Regions from separate parts of the Homo sapiens genome. Here region 2 is linked to region 1. Evidence: fine-mapped expression QTL. Tissue or cell type: whole blood. Region 1 holds a variant in brackets; the other region holds the start of a gene. All regions are shown on one strand. Distances are between the middles of the regions.

Region 1 (8,096 bases):
AGGCGGCGGGTGTGTGGCTATAAAAACGCAACCCGGGGGGTGCCTGTGAAGGAAATCTGCGTCCCGCAGAACGCAACACGCCGTTGGGATACTGGACCGTCCTTTGTGAGATGCCACCATTGGGGGAAACCGGATATGCATGGCTCCAAGGAAAAAGTTCGATTAAAGGAAAGTGGTTTAAGGACAAGGAAATGGCTAGAAAATGGAAAGTCTTGGAAACAGAGCCAGTTGGGGGTTGGGAGGGCGGTGGGGGGAAAAGCAAGATAGATCAGATTGTTACTGTGTCTGTGTAGAAAGAAGTAGACATAGGAGACTCCATTTTGTGCTGTACTAAGAAAAATTCTTCTGCCTTGAGATTCTGTTAATCTATGACGTTACCCCCAACCCCGTGCTCTCTGAAACATGTGCGTGTCAAACTCAGGGTTAAATGGATTAAGGGCGGTGCAAGATGTGCTTTGTTAAACAAATGCTTGAAGGCAGCATGCTCCTTAAGAGTCATCACCACTCCCTCATCTCAAGTACCCAGGGACGCAAACACTGTGGAAGGCCGCAGGGTCCTCTGCCTAGGAAAGCCAGGTATTGTCCAAGGTTTCTCCCCAGTGTTAAGTCTTACACCTGCCCACTCAAGAGGCAGGAGTTAATCCCAGAGGTCTGTGTCCTAATGCATTATGGCAAATGGATGTCACGCATGTCCCTTCATTTGGAAGATTGTCATATGTTCATGTAACAGTTGATACTTATTCACATTTCATATGGGCAGCTTGCCAGACAGGAGAAAGTACTTCCCATGTTAAAAAACGTTTATTGTCTTGTTTTGCTGTCATGGGAGTTCCAGAAAAAATCAAAACTGACAATGGACCAGGATATTGTAGTAAAGCTTTCCAAAGATTCTTAAATCGGTGGAAAATTTCACATACAACAGGAATTCCCTATAATTCCCAAGGACAGGCCATAGTCCTTGGGTGCATGGCTCCAAAGAAAAAGTTCGATTAAAGGAAAGTGGTTTAAGGACAAGGAAATGGCTAGAAAATGGAAAGTCTTGGAAACAGAGCCAGTTGGGGGTTGGGAGGGCGGTGCTGGTGAACAGTTTAGGCCGATTGTCTTTTTTTCTAGTGTTTGCTGGCTTCTGCCCCCTCATTTGGCAGTCACCTGCCACTGTGACCTCCCCAAGACCCCTCTCCAAACTCTATACCTTGATTTCTGGTGTCCCGGAAATAGAGACCAGAAACACTGATGTCCCACTCCAACGATAGAGCAGAAGGAAGGAAGGTTTCCCCTGTGGTTTAGAACGTTCCTAACGAAAATAACTGCAACTCTTGATTGCACCTCCTGAGGGTCGTTGGGACTTTCCCTCTCAGACATTTATTGGTTCATTCATTCGTTCATTTTGCTGTAACTCACAGTGGCCCCCATCCTAAGGTGCACTGCTGGGATTGGTCTATGTGCTGATGATGTTCTCCTTGTCTTCAGAGGTGAGAATGTGCCCTCCCTCCGAGATGCCCTCTTGCCCCTGAGCTCCCCAGCAGGGAACAGGCTGCCTTGTCTTGTGAGTCCAGATCCTGGGAACAACTTTCATTTAGGAATGGAACAGCAGGTCCTGGGAGCATTGGCGCCTGCGCGCCCATCATGCGCGTGTGTGATGCAACATCACCACCTTGTGGCAGCGAGGAGCTATCACAACGTGGACTGAGCAAGTTGCTCCCTGCTTGGGGTTGGGAGCTGGACTGGCCTAGTTCCCTGGGTCTTTTTTTGTTGTTTTTGTTTTTGTTTTTGTTTTTGAGACAGAGTCTCGCTCTGGCCCAGGCTGGAGTGCAGTGGCGCGATCTCGGCTCACTGCAAGCTCCGCCTCCCGGGTTCACGCCATTCTCCTGCCTCAGCCTCCCGAGTAGCTGGGACTACAGGCGCCCGCCACCACGCCGGGCTAAATTTTTTTTTTTTTTTTTTAGTAGAGACGGAGTTTCACCGTGTTAGCCAGGATGGTCTCGATCTCCTGACCTCGTGATCCGCCTCGTGATCCTCCTGATCCTCGAAGCCGCCCGCCTCGGCCTCCCAAAGTGCTGGGATTACAGGCGGGAGCCACCGCGCCTGGCCGTTCCCTGGGTCTTTTGAGTGGTGTGAGTTGAATGGTGGTAGATTCTAGGACAGTTCAGTAGGAGCCCGTCCTCAAAAGGAAAATAACAGAACTTCCTGCTAATCTGGTATTGGGGCTGAGCAATTACTGCACACTGATGAGATTGACCATAATTGCATCCTGAGTTTGAAGAGGAGGTCACGCTACTAAGACGAGATAAAATCAGCTCCAACGACAAACATCATCTCTGGGGGTTTCCAGATTCTCAATTTTCATTTAATCCCCAGCCTTAGTGGAAAGCAAGAGTCGGAGTCGGCATTCTGGGCAGGGAGGCAGGTGAGGCAGGTACACATCTCCTCTTCTCCCCAACGCCCCATGTTTCTATTTCTGAATAAAATGAACCATCATGGTGCTAAGGTAAAGCTAAACTAGCTGAGCCACCTCCTGAAGAGGACATTGCTTTTTTTTATTTGATGAGATTTCTTTCCCTTCTGTTACCAGCATCTCCATCCCTTTGGGAAACTGACTCTTAATAACAGAGTTTTTTGTACTTTTAAACTTTGTTTTTGTGTAGTCAAATATGTACAACATAAGATATGCTGTTTTATCCATTTTTAAGTGGACAGTTCAGAAGCATTAATTACATCGACTATGTTGTGCAACCTTTCCTGCTATTTATTTCCAAAACATTTTTCAACAGAACAAATAAAAACACGGTACTCATTGTAAAATAACTTCCCATTCCCCCCTCCTTTCATTACCGGTAGCCTCTAATCTACTTTCTGTCTCTATGATTTGTCTGTCCCATGTACTTCGTATAAGTGGAATCCTACAAAATGGGCCTTTACAGTCAGCTTATTTCCCTTGAAAACCTTGTTGGCAAGTTTCATCAATGTTGTAATATGAGTCAGAATTTCACTTCTTTGTGGCCGAATATTAAAAATGCACGGGTCGTTTGAGATTTGTGAATAATGCACCAATGATTCTTGGCATATATGTATCTGTGTGACTCCCTGCGCTTAATACTGTGGGTATCTACCGAGGAATGGAATTGTTATAACAATTCTATCGTCATCCTATGTTTAGCTTTTTGAGGAATAGCCAAAATGTATTTCGCAGTGTCTGTGCAATTTTACAT[T/G]CCCACCAACAATGTATGAGGGTTCCAATTTCTCCATATTTTCACCAGCATTTATTATGTTGCTTTTTTTCCCCTAAATTATAGCCATCCTAGCAGATGTGATGTGGTATTTCATTGGGTTTTTGATTTGCATTTCCCTAATGACTAATGACTTGAATCGTCTTTTCATGCATTTACTGGCCATTTGTATACCTTCCTTGGAGAAATGTCTATCCAAGTCCTTTGCTTATACTTTAATTGGATTGTTTGCCTATTCATTGTTGAGTTGTAGAAGTTCTTTATATTCTGAATTTATCAGCTATATGATTTGCAAAAATGTTCCTTCACTCTGTAGGTTGTCTTTCTTGATAATATCCTTTGATACACAAAATTTCAGATTTTAATGAAGATTACTCCCAGTGGATTTTGTTTCTTTTTGTTTTTTCATTGTTGTTTTGCAAGAGATTTTGCTATCATATCTAAGAGCCTATTACCAAACCCAAAATTATGAAGATTTGCTTCTATGTTTTCTCCTAAGAATTTTATGATTTTAGTTTTTATATTTAGTTCATTGCTTGTGAGGGTTTTTTTAATACGGTGTGAAGCAGGGTCTAACTTTACTCTTGCATGTGGAAATACAGTCCTTCCATATCATCTGTTGAAGACTATTCTTCCCTGAATTGAATACTGCTTGGCACCCTTGGCCATAGACATATGAGTTTATTGAGGATCCCTTGTACATGTCTTGCTGCTTTTATGATTTTCTCTTTGTCTTATACAGACATCCCTCATTTCATTGCATTTTGCTTTAGCGCAATTCAAAGATATTGTGTTTTTCACATATTGAAGGTCTGTGGCAACTGTGTCAAGCAGGATTTTGGGACCATTTTTCCAACAGCATGTGCTCATTTCTTGTCTCTGTGTTACGTTTTGGTAATTCTCACAATATTTCAGACATTGTCATTATTATTACATCTGTTACAGTGATCCGGGATGTTACTACTATAATTGTTTTGGGGTGCCACAAACTAAACCCATATACGTTGACAAACTTAATGGATAAATGTTGTGTGTGTTCTGACTGCTCCAGTGAGCAGTCATTTCCCATCTCTCTCCCTCTCCCAAATTCTTTGAGACAACACAACAATATTTAAATTAGGGTAGTGAAGAACCAACCCTATAATGACCTTTAAATCTTCAAATAAAAGGAAGAGTTGCATGCCTGTCACTTTAAATCAAAAGTGAAAGACGATTAAAGTTAGGAAGACATGTCAAAAGCCAAGATAAGCCATAAGCAAGACCTCTTGCACCAAACAAGCTGCCAAGTTGTGAATGAAAGAAAAAGTTATTGAAGGAAATTAAAAGTGCTGCTTTAGTGAACACATGAATGATAAGTAAAACAGCCTTATTGCTGACATGGGGAAAATTTAAGTGGTCTGTATAGATCAAACCAGCCACAGAACTCCCTTCAGCCAAAGCCGAATCCAGAGCAAGGCCCCAACTCTCTTCAATCCTATGCAGGATGAGAGAAGTGAGGAAATTGCAGAAGAAAAGTTGGAAGCTAGCAGAGGTTGGTTCTTGGTTCATGAGGTTTAAGGGAAGAAGGCATCTCTGTAACATAAAAGTGCAATGTGAAGCAGGAAGTGCTGATGGAGAAGCTGCACCAAGTTATCCAGAAGATCTAGCTAAGATCATTGATGAAGGTGGCTACACTAAACAGATTTTCAATGTAGATAAAACAGCCTTCTATTGGAAGAAGATGCCACCTAGGACTTCCATAGCTAGAGAGGAAAAGTCAATGCCTGGCTTCAAAGCTTCAAAGGATAGGCTGACTCTGTTGTTAGGGGCTAATGCAGTTGGTGACTTTAAGTTGAGACCAATGCTCATTTACCATACTGAAAATCTTAGGGCTTTAAGAATTATGCTAAACCTACTCTGCCTGTGCTCTCAGTGGAACCACCAAGCCTGGGTGACAGCATGTCTCTTTACAGCATAGGTTACTGAGTATTTTAAGTCCACTGTTGAGACTCACTGTTCAGAAAAAAAGATTCCTTTCAAAATATTACTGCTCATTGACAATGCACCTGATTACCCAAGAGCTCTGACGGAGACGTACAAGGAGATGAATGCTGTTTTCATGCCTGCTAACACAACGTCCATTCTACAGCCCATGGATCAAGGAGTAAATTCAACTTTCAAGTCTTATTATTTAAAAAATACACTTCCGGCCGGGCGTGGTGGCTCACGCCTGTAATTCCAGCACTTTGGGAGGCCAAGGCGGGTGGATTAACCAAGGTAGGGAGTTCGAGACCAGCCTGGCCAACATGGGGAAACCCCGTCTCTACTAAAAATACAAATATCAGCTGGGCGTGGTTGCGGGCGCCTGTCATCCCAGCTACTTGGGAGGCTGAGTAACGAGAATCGCTTGAACCCGGGAGGCGGACGTTGCAGTGAGCCGAGATCGCACCACTGCACTCCTGCCTGGGTGACAAGAGTGTGACTCCATCTCAAAATAATAATAATAATAATAATAATAATAATAATAATAATAATGATAATGATAATAATAAACACAAAATAATTTTTAAAAGGCTATTAGCTGCCAGATATAGTGATTCCTCTGGTGGATCTGGGCAAAATAAATTGATAAATTGCTAGAAAGGTTCTCACCACTCTTGATGCCATTAAGAACATTTGTGATGCGTGGAAGGAGGTCAAAATGTCAACATTAACAGGAGTTTGGAAGAAATTAATTCCAACGCTCATGGAAGACTTTAGGGAAGGAAGTAGCTGCAGATATGGTGGAAATAGAACAGAACTAGAATTAGAAATGGAACCTGAAGATGTCACAGAATTGCTGCAACCTCATGATAAAACTTTCACAGATGAGGAGTCACTTCTTATGGATGAGCAAAGGAAGTGGTTTCTGGAGATGGAATCTGCCTCTGGGGAAGATGCTGTAACCACTGTTGAAATGACAACAGGCCGGGTGTGGTGGCTCACACCTGTAATCCCAGCACTTTGGGAGGCCGAGGCCGGTGGATAACCTGAGGTCAGGAGTTCGAGACCAGCCTGGCCAACATGGTGAAACCCTGTCTCTACTAAAAATACAAAAATTAGCCAGGTGTGGTAGCACATGCCTGTAATCCCAGCTACTCGGGAAGCTGAGGCAGGAGAATTGCTTGAGCCTGGGAGACGGAGGTTGCGGTGAACTGAGATTGTGCCACTGCACTCCAGCCTGGCTGACAGAACGAGACTCTGTCTCAAAACAAACAAACAAAAACCAAAAGATTTAGGATATAACAAAGTAAGTTGATAAAGCAGTGGCAGGGTTTGAGAAGATTGACACCAATTTGAAATAAGTTCTACTGTGCATAAAATGCTATCAAATGGCGTTACATGCTACAGAGAAATCTTTCATAAAAGGAAGAATCAATTGATGAAGCCAACTGATTTTAAAAAATTGCCGGCCAGGCACGGTGGCTCACGCCTGTAATCCCAGCACTTTGGGAGGCCGAGGTGGGTGGATCACGAGGTCAGGAGATCGAGACCATCCTGGCTAACACGGTGAAACCCCATCTCTACTAAAAATACAAAAAATTAGCTGGGCGCAGTGGTGGGCGCCTGTAGTCCCAGCTACTGGGGAGGCTGAGGCAGGAGAATGGCGTGAATCCGGGAGGCGGAGCTTGCAGTGAGCTGAGATAGCGCCACTGCACTCAGGCCTGGGCGACAGAGCGAGACTCTGTCTCAAAAAAAAAAAAAAGAAATTGCCACAGCCACTCCAGCCTTCAGCAACCACCACCTTGATCAGTCAGGTTCATTAACATTGAGGCGGGCCACTCCACCAGCAAAAAGATTATGACTCACTGAAGGCTCAGATGACTATCATCATTTTTTTTAGTGATAACATGTGTTATGATTAAGGTATCTACATTTTTGAGACATAACGTGCACTTAATACACTGCAGTATAGTATATAACTATTATATGCATAGGGCTGCTAAAGCGTTGCGTGATTTGCATTATTGTGGTATTCGCTTTATTGTGGTGGTTTGGAACCTACCCCACAATATCTCTGAGGTATGCCTGTATATTGCTGGCAGGAATGTAAAATTGCACAGTAGCTTTGCAAAAACAAGTTTGGCAGTTCTTCAAAAAGTTAAATATAGAGTTATACCATATGACTCACCAATTCTACCCACTGGTATATATCCATGATAAGCTCAAGAAAACATACCTCTATACATATATTTATACATGAATGTTGATAGCAGCATTATTCATAAATATATTTATACATGAATGTTGATAGCAGCATTATTCATAATAGCCAAAGATGGAAAAAACCCAAATGTCTGTCAATTGAAAGGGTAAACAAAATAGATATATGTATACATATTATTATATTATTCAGCCATAAAAAGAAATGAAGCCTGACAAATGCTACCTTGAACCATCATGAATGAACCTTTAAAACATTATGCTAAGTAAAAGAAGCAGCCACGAAAGACCACATATTGTATGGTTCATTTTGCATGAAATCCCCGAAATAGGAAAATCCAGAGACAGAAAATAAATCTGTGGTTGCCAGGGATTGTGGGAAGGAGGAAATGGAGAATAATTGCTAATGGGTATCACAGTTCCTTTTAGGGTGATGAAAATCTTCTGGAGTTAGATAGTGGTGATAGTTGCACAGCTTCATCAATATACTAAGAACTACTGAATTGCATGCTTTAAAAGGATGAACATTATGGTATGTGAATTGTATTTTACTAAAGGTGTTATTTTATTTATATATTATTTATTTATTTATTTATTTTTATTTTTATTTTTATTTTTTGAGACGGAGTCTCGCCTGTCGCTCAGGATGGAGTGCAGTGGTGCAATCTCGGCTCATGGCAACTTTCG
Region 2 (8,106 bases), 58 kb before region 1:
AACAGATACTTGTACACCAATAATCATTGCAATATTATTCACAATAGTCAAACAACAGATGAGTGGATAAACAATGCCTGGTACCCTTCCTTCCTTCCTTCCTTCCTTCCTTCCTTCCTTCCTTCCTTCCTTCCTTCCTTCCTTCCTTTCTTTTTCTTTCTCTCTTTCTTCTTTCTTTTCTTTCTGTCAGTCTTGCTCTTGTTGCCCAGGCTTGAGTGCAATGACACAATCTCAGCTCACCGCCACCTCTGCCTCCTGGGTTCAAGTGATTCTCCTGCCTCAGCCTCCCGAGTAGCTGGGACTACAGGTGCACACCACCATGCCCAGCTAATTTTTGTGTTTTTAGTAGAGATGGGGTTTCCCCACGTTGGCCAGGCGGTATACACATTTTTCTATTATTCGGCCATAAAAAGGAATGAAGTTCTGATGCATACTACAACATGGATGAAACTCAGCAACAAGGTTTTTGAGGAAAAAAAGCTTAGTGAAAAGGCCACATCTTGTAGGATTCCACTTATATGAAATACATGCAATAGACAAATTCATGGAGACAGAAAGTAGATTAGAGGCTACCAGGAGTGGAAGGAGGGGAGAATGGGGATTTATTATCCAATGAGTGCAGTGTTTCTATTTGTTTTTGTTTTTGTTTGAGACAGGGTCTCGCTCTGTCATCCAGGCTGGAGTGCAGTGCCACGATCTCAGCTCACTGCAGCCTCCGCCTCCTGGGTTCAAGCAATTCTCCTGCCTCAGCCTCTGAGTAGCTGGGATTACAGGTGTACACCACCTGGCAAATTTTTGTAGAGATGGGGTTTCGCCATGTTGGCCAGGCTGGTCTCAAACTTTTGACCTCAGGTGATCTGCATGCCTCTGCCTCCCAAAGTGCTGGGATTACAGGCGTGATCTATGGCCCCTGACCCAAGTGTTTCTATTTGGGATGATGAAAACGTTTTGAAAATAAATAGTTGTAATGGTTGCACAGCACTCTAAAGGTAATTTATGCCACTGAATTGTACACTTAAAATGGTGAAAATAGAAAATTTCATGTTATACAGATTTTGCTACCCAAAAAACAAAACAAAAAATCCAAAACCTTTATGTTATTATGAAGAAGCAGTTTTCCAAAGGAATAGGGATGCTGGTAGCAGAAGGGAAAGAAATCTCATTAAATAAAAACAAAAGCAATGACCTCTTCAGGAGGTGGCTCAGCTAGTTTAGCTTTACCTTAGCACCATGATGGTTCATTTTATTCAGAAATAGAAACATGGGGCGTTGGGGAGAAGAGGAGATGTGTACCTGCCTCACCTGCCTCCCTGCCCAGAATGCCGACTCCGACTCTTGCTTTCCACTAAGGCTGGGGATTAAATGAAAAGTGAGAATCTGGAAACCCCCAGAGATGATGTTTGTCGTTGGAGCTGATTTTATCTCATTTTAGTAGCATGACCTCCTCCTCAAACTCAGGATGCAATTATGGTCAATCTCATTAGTGTGCAGTAATTGCTCAGCCCCAATACCAGATTAGCAGGAAGTTCTGTTATTTTCCTTTTGAGGATGGGCTCCTACTGAACTGTCCTGGAATCTACCACCATTCAGGTTACAAAAGACCCAGGGAACTAGGCCAGTCCAGCTCCCAACCCCAAGCAGGGAGCAACTTGCTCAGTCCACGTTGTGATAGCTCCTCGCTGCCACAAGGTGGTGATGTTGCATCACACACGCGCATGATGGGCGCGCAGGCGCCAATGCTCCCAGGACCTGCTGTTCCATTCCTAAATGAAAGTTGTTCCCAGGATCTGGACTCACAAGACAAGGCAGCCTATTCCCTGCTGGGGAGCTCAGGGGCAAGAGGGCATCTCGGAGGGAGGGCACATTCTCACCTCTGAAGACAAGGAGAACATCATCAGCACATAGACCAATCCCAGCAGTGCACCTTAGGATGGGGAGGGCCACTGTGAGTTACAGCAAAATGAACGAATGAATGAACCAATAAATGTCTGAGAGGGAAAGTCCCAACGACCCTCAGGAGGTACAATCAAGAGTTGCAGTTATTTTCGTTAGGAACGTTCTAAACACAGGGGAAACCTTCCTTCCTTCTGCTCTATTGTTGGAGTGGGGCCATCCCGGGACACCAGAAATCAAGGAATTGAGTTTGGAGAAGGGACTTGGGGAGGTCACAGTGGCAGGTGACTGCCAAATGAGGTGGCAGAAGCCAGCAAGCGCTGGAAAAAGTCGGCCCAAACTGTTCACCAGCACCGCCCCCCATAACTCCCCACCGGCTCTGGTTTCAAGACTTTCCGTTTTCTAGGTATTTCCTTGGCCTTAAACCATTTTCCTTTAAACGAACTTTTTCTGTGAAGCCATCCGGTTTCCCCCGATAGTGGCATCTCACAAAGGACAATCCAGTATCCCAACAGCGTGTTGCGTTCCGCGGGACGCAGATTTCCTTCACAGGCACCCCCCGGGTTGCGTTTTTATAGCCACACCCACCCGCCCCCCTATCTCCTGGGCACTGCTAATGAGTCCTGCATTTCTCTCCTTTGGTCTTTGGATAAATGAACCATCCGTGCGTGACCTTTGCGAGGGCATCTTGCATAATACCAGTACACCAGCGGCGCCGTCGGTGAGTGACCTTTGGGACTGGTTTCTCTCACCAGCGTAACTCCCCGGGAGATCCGAGCAAGCTGATGAGTGTATCAGTGGCTCATTCTTTCTGTTGCACCACGGACCCTCATTCTGTAACCGGGATACCAGCCAGAGATGGGGAGCGGGAGGCGCAGGGCAGGGGCGTCCCTCCTCTCAGCACAGCCTCCCCGCGCTGGATTTCTATCAATCCAGTTTCCACCTGCCTGGAAGTCAGCAGGGTCCTCCCCAGTCCCAGATCGCCGGGCGAGGCCCCAGATGGACCTCAGGGGCGGGGAGTGGGCGGAGCTTAGGGGCCGAGGCGAGGTGTGGGTGGGGCGGGACGCCGCTGTGGAGGCGGGGCCTGGGCGCGGACGGGCGCGGAGCGAGGCACCGCACCGCCGGGGCGGGGAGTGGGCGGGGCTCGGGGGCGGGGCGGGGTGTGGGCGGGGCTCACGGGCGGGGCGGGTGAGTGGGCGGGGCCTCGGCGTGGTAGGCGCGCTGCGTAAAGAGGCCTGCAGTCCCGCGGCGCGGGGCAGGTTCCGGGCTGCTTAGGTTGGCACCGGTCCGTGGTCCCCGGGGGCGCAGTCGCAGCGCTCCCGCCCTCCAGGCGTCAGCGAGTGCGCGGTCCAGTGCGGCCGGAACCTGGCGCAACTCCTAGAGCGGTCCTTGGGGAGACGCGGGTCCCAGTCCTGCGGCTCCTACTGGGGAGTGCGCTGGTCGGAAGGTGAGTGATCCCCTGTCGGGGACCGGGGGACTTGGGAAGGACAGTTCCCGGACTGGACGGCCAGAACGCTCTCAGGGATTTCAGCTGGCCGGCCATATGGCCCTGTGGGTCGTCGCGCCCGGGCCAGGGACCATTCTGTACATAGGATCGTGCTTGGCTCTCACGGAACGCGCCCACACGCAGGGTCCCGGTGTCGAATCGTCTGGTGGAATCTGCCCTCAACCCTATGGAGCGGGTGCTGGTATCATAGTCATATTACAAGTAGGAATCAGCGGGCCCAAGGTCAGTCTGTAAAGGGGGTACCGGGGTTTAGGCCCGTGCGCTGCCCAGCGCTGCCCTGAAGGCGCGGCTGAACCACTGGTTTGCGCTGCCTTTGTCAAGGACATTGTGGCACTGTGGAAAAAATGAAAAATCAGCTTCTCTAACCTATAATCTCTCTGGGAAAAAAAAAAATCAGCTTTTTTTTTTTTCCCCGAGACGGAGTCTCACTCTGTCGCCCAGGCTGGAGTGCAGTGGCACGATTTCGGCTCACTGCAACCTCCGCCTCCCGGGTTCAAGCAATTCTCCTGCCTCAGCCTCCCGAGTACCTGGGATTATAGGGGCGTGCCACCACGCCTGGCTAATTTTTTGTATGTTTAGTAGAGACGGGTTTCATGTTGGTCAGGCTGGTCTCAAACTCCTGACCTCGTGATCCGCCCGCCTGGGCCTCCCAAAGTGCTGGGATTGCAGGCGTGAGCCACTGCTCCCGGCCCTCTTTTTCTTTTTTCTTTTTTTTTTAGAAGAGTCTCACTCTGTTGCCCAGGCTGGAGTGCAGTGGGGCAATCTCAGCTCACTGCAACCTCTGCCTTCCAGGTTCAAGCGATTCTCCCCCCTCAGCCCCTTGAGTAGCTGGGATTACAGGCGCCTGCCACCATGCCCGGCTAATTTTTGTATTTTTAGTACAGGTGGGAGTTTCACCATATTGGCCAGGCTGGTCTTGAACTCATTCTTCTTCCTTTCTTTTTCTTTTTTTTTTTTTTTTGAGATGGAGTTTCACTCTTATTGCCCAAGCTGGAGTGCAATGGCACAATCTCAGCTCACTGCAACCTCTGCCTCCCGGGTTCAAGCTATTCTCCTGCCTCAGTCTCCCGAGTAGCTGGGATTACAGGTGCGTGCCACTACACCCAGCTAATTTTTGGTATTTTTAGTAGAAATGGAGTTTCACCATATTAGTCAGGCTGGTCTCAAACTCCTGACCTCAGGTGATCCGCCTGCCTCGGCCTCCCAGAGTGCTGGGATTAATGAACCACTGCGCCCGGCCAAAAATCAGCTTCTTTAACCTTTAATCTCTGAAAAAATAAATCAGTTTAACCTTTAATCTCCGAAGATCACAGCCAAAGAAATACATGAAAAGGAACAAGTATTAAATAATATATACTTCTAGCTGTGCTGTTTATAGTTTTGGGAAAAAAATGGAAATAACCTAAGGTCCCAGAAATAGGAAAATGGGCACAAAAGGGTATGCAGGCAATGGTTTAGCTGCCGCATGAATACACACTGAATACACTGTGAGATGTTGTCTGTTAGAATGCCCAGCACGGGGACTGTCCACATGGAAAGAGGCACAGGAAAAAAAGTGAAAACATTATAAAATAACTTCTTAAAATTAAATAATGTACACGTCAAAAATATCAGAGCCCACTTGACCTGGTATATACAGTTTAATAACCACATGGCTCTTTTTTCCTGTAGGCCTGGGTAGGTGCATAGTTTCTAAAAAGGGAGAGAACTGTCACTGCTGTGGATGGGGTGCCAAGGGAAGTGCCTGGGGTCAAGTGAACAGTGACACAACTGCAAGTCAAGAGCCTGTGTTGGAGTCTTTCCCCACTATTTCAAATAGTATAGAAAATAGAGCTGAGTCACTCAAATAGAGCTGAGTTAGTCACTCAGCTCTTGGACCTCAGATTCTTATTCTTAACCGCTAGGGGGATGGAGACAGAAGTCACAAACTCACATGCCACCAGCCATATGATGTAAACATGTAAACTGGGCCAAGGAATACAAAAGGGAGTGGTGAGCTGGGGACACTGAAGAATGGATGCCCTGTCTAGAGGAGTGAAAATGAAGCATTTCATACAAACAACATGATTTCGGGCAATCACTTTGGGAATCAGGATAAGGTGTTCCCCCAGTCTGCAGAAACACTGGCAACATTTACAAAGGTAAATCATTTCATATCACTCTATTTTCTTTTTCTTTTTTGAGACAGAGTCTTGCTCTGTTGCCCAGGCTGGAGTGCAATGGCACAATCTTGACTCACTGCAACCTCCACCTCCCAGGTTCAAGTGATTCTCCTGCCTCAGCCTCCCAAGTAGCTGGGACTACAGGCACATGCCACCATACCCGGATAATTTTTGTATTTTTTAGTAGAGATGGTGTTTTGCCACATTGACCAGGCTGGTTTCAAACTCCTGACCTCAGGTGATCCCCCCACCTCGGCCCCCCAAAATGCTGGGATTACAGGTGTGAGCCACCACAACTGGCGATCATTCCATATTACTCTCCAGCTTAAGAGGCTCCAAGGGCTTTCTGTCAGGCTTAGAATAAAATCCTCACCCCTACCCTAGGAGGGGTCAGGTCAGACCCCTCCCACCTCCCTGACTGCATCTACCACCATCCACTCTTTTTTTTTTTGAACCACAGTTCAGCCAAACAGGCTTTCTTTTTTTTCTTTTACTTTCTCTTTTTTCTTGAAACAGAGCCTAACTCTGTCACCCAGTCTGGAGTGGAGCAATCCTCTAATCTCAGCCCCCTGAGTAGCTGGGATTACAGGCATGCACCACCACACCTGGCTAATTTTTAAAAATCTTTGGTAGAGATGGGATCTCACTATGTTGCCCGGGCTGGTCTCAAATTCCTAGGCTCAAGTGATCTCCTGCCTCAGCCTCTCAAAGTGCTGGGCCTTCTGCTTCCCTGGGCTTTGCCAGGCCTCCCTATGCATTGTGATAGCCAAAGTTTGCTTTCTACAAAGTCACCTCCAGGCAGTGACTGTCCACCAGGGCACTGTAGAGCCTCCCAGCTAATGATGAAGTCACTCACTCTCCTCTCTTTTTCCTTTAAGATAATCCCTTTCCAGACCCGCCATTTTGGCTCACCCTGTAAGTTACAGCCCCACTTCTCACTGCCAAGTGTGGGTGTCACTGCTGGCTCAGGGAGCATGGATCCTGTAAACTTGCCTCATCGGGAGGCTTTGAGGAGTGACCCCCAGGAACTAGACAAGTAACTTGTTCTTCACAATCACTGCCCTCCCAAGAACATCCAGGATTTCAGCCTCAGTGCTAAGACAACCATGTCTCTCCCTGACACATGCTCGCTGCTGAGAATTCTAGGAAAAGCAGAGGGCTGTGCAGGCGCCCCTGCCCCTAGGCTAGGAGAGCTGGCAAATGCCTGGAGACCCAAAGGCCTCATCCTCAGGGCGGCCAACTCTTCTGTTTTAGTGATATACAGACTATCTTTTATTGTGATTTATAGTGCAACTTACCGGTTCAAACAATACTACCTGTATTCATAAACTTTCTTTTTCCTTTCCTTCCTCACTGCCCAGCTTTAGGTTCATTCTTGTAAGTGTTGCTGGTGTCAGAATAGGAACCTCCCTGCGCTTTGAAGGGATGAATGTGACCTCTCCCACATTCTCCGGTGCTGTGATGTACCTTAAACACAGCAAGGTACTTGGACACAAAGCCTGTGCCTGGAGCACTTTCAGACAGACAGTGCATGGCCCTCGCTACAGACTCAGTGCCATTGTAGATGTTTCTGCATGGAAAATACATAAACACAAATATCTGCAGTTGCCAATCCACCACCATCTTGCAGCCCCAAGAGAGCCCCGGGAATCCAGGTTCCTTTGGTATTTCTGCTCCCTGCCCTTGGTGCATAGCCTCCATCCCCAGGACGACAAGAAGGCTGACTGAGCCCTAACATCATCCCACAGTCCAGCTGGGAAGAGAGCCAGCGACAAAGCCAGAGGGAGCTAGCTCCCACACCTCCCAGCCCCAGCTGAGTTCGCTTCTTGAGGGTATTTCTTGGAAGCCCCGCCTGTGACTTCTGCTGACACCTCACTGGCCATCTCAACTGCAAGGCAGCCTAGGAAATGTAGTGCTTACCTGTACACGTGGATTCCTGGAATCAATTCAGGGTCTGTCCTTGGGGAACCAGAGTGGGGATATTCAGTCACTAAAGATGCAGGTTCCCAGCTGTCCAGTGAAGTCAAGCGAATGGGGAAGGATTTGAAGTCACCTTTGGGTGTTTGGAGTGATCAGAGCTGTCTGCCCTCTTGGGGAGTGACAGTGCCCCACTCTGTTAAGTCCCATGCCTGCCCCCAACTCAGCTTCAGCCACAATGATGTAGCCTCTTTTCCTTTCCATCCACAGGGCACCTGGCCTGGGTGGAGCCCACTCCTCAGCACCCACCTCACTTCTTGCAGTATTCTGCAGACCCCAGCCCTGTGCCTGTGCTCCTGGACAGCTGGAGATAAGGAGTGGGCCCTGGAAGATGCTCATTCAGGCCCTGCTCAAGATTCCAGTCCTGGTGGGGATAAGCACCACTTTTGTGTGTCTCTGTGCTTTTTGTTTTGCTGTAAAGACACACTGATAGGTTCACGTTGTCGTTTGGACACAACATGCGCGATGCGTGTCTTCACACTAAGCCCTAGTCACACTCTCTGCATTGTTTTTTTATCCCATTTTTTCCTACTGTGGTACAGAACATCTCACATAAAATTGACCATT

What was found. PIP is the estimated chance that this variant, and not a neighbour inherited with it, causes the effect.
Region 2: it holds the start of NQO2, and the variant in region 1 is fine-mapped to the expression of NQO2 in whole blood (TOPMed, PIP above 0.99).

Annotation. Positions count from the first base shown.
Region 1 is chr6:3,054,553-3,062,648 of GRCh38, forward strand. It overlaps LOC124901242 (a long non-coding RNA gene), which reads left to right and starts at 536. Exons shown (of 2, transcript XR_007059409.1): 1 at 536-1,472; 2 at 1,947-2,805. RefSeq lists an enhancer at 1-775. The variant T/G (reference allele first, on the strand shown) is at 3,210.
Region 2 is chr6:2,996,746-3,004,851 of GRCh38, forward strand. NQO2 (N-ribosyldihydronicotinamide:quinone dehydrogenase 2) reads left to right here and starts at 3,149. Exons shown (of 7, transcript NM_000904.6): 1 at 3,149-3,340. NQO2-AS1 (NQO2 antisense RNA 1) reads right to left here and starts at 2,930. Exons shown (of 2, transcript NR_186367.1): 1 at 2,646-2,930. RefSeq lists a silencer at 2,898-3,147.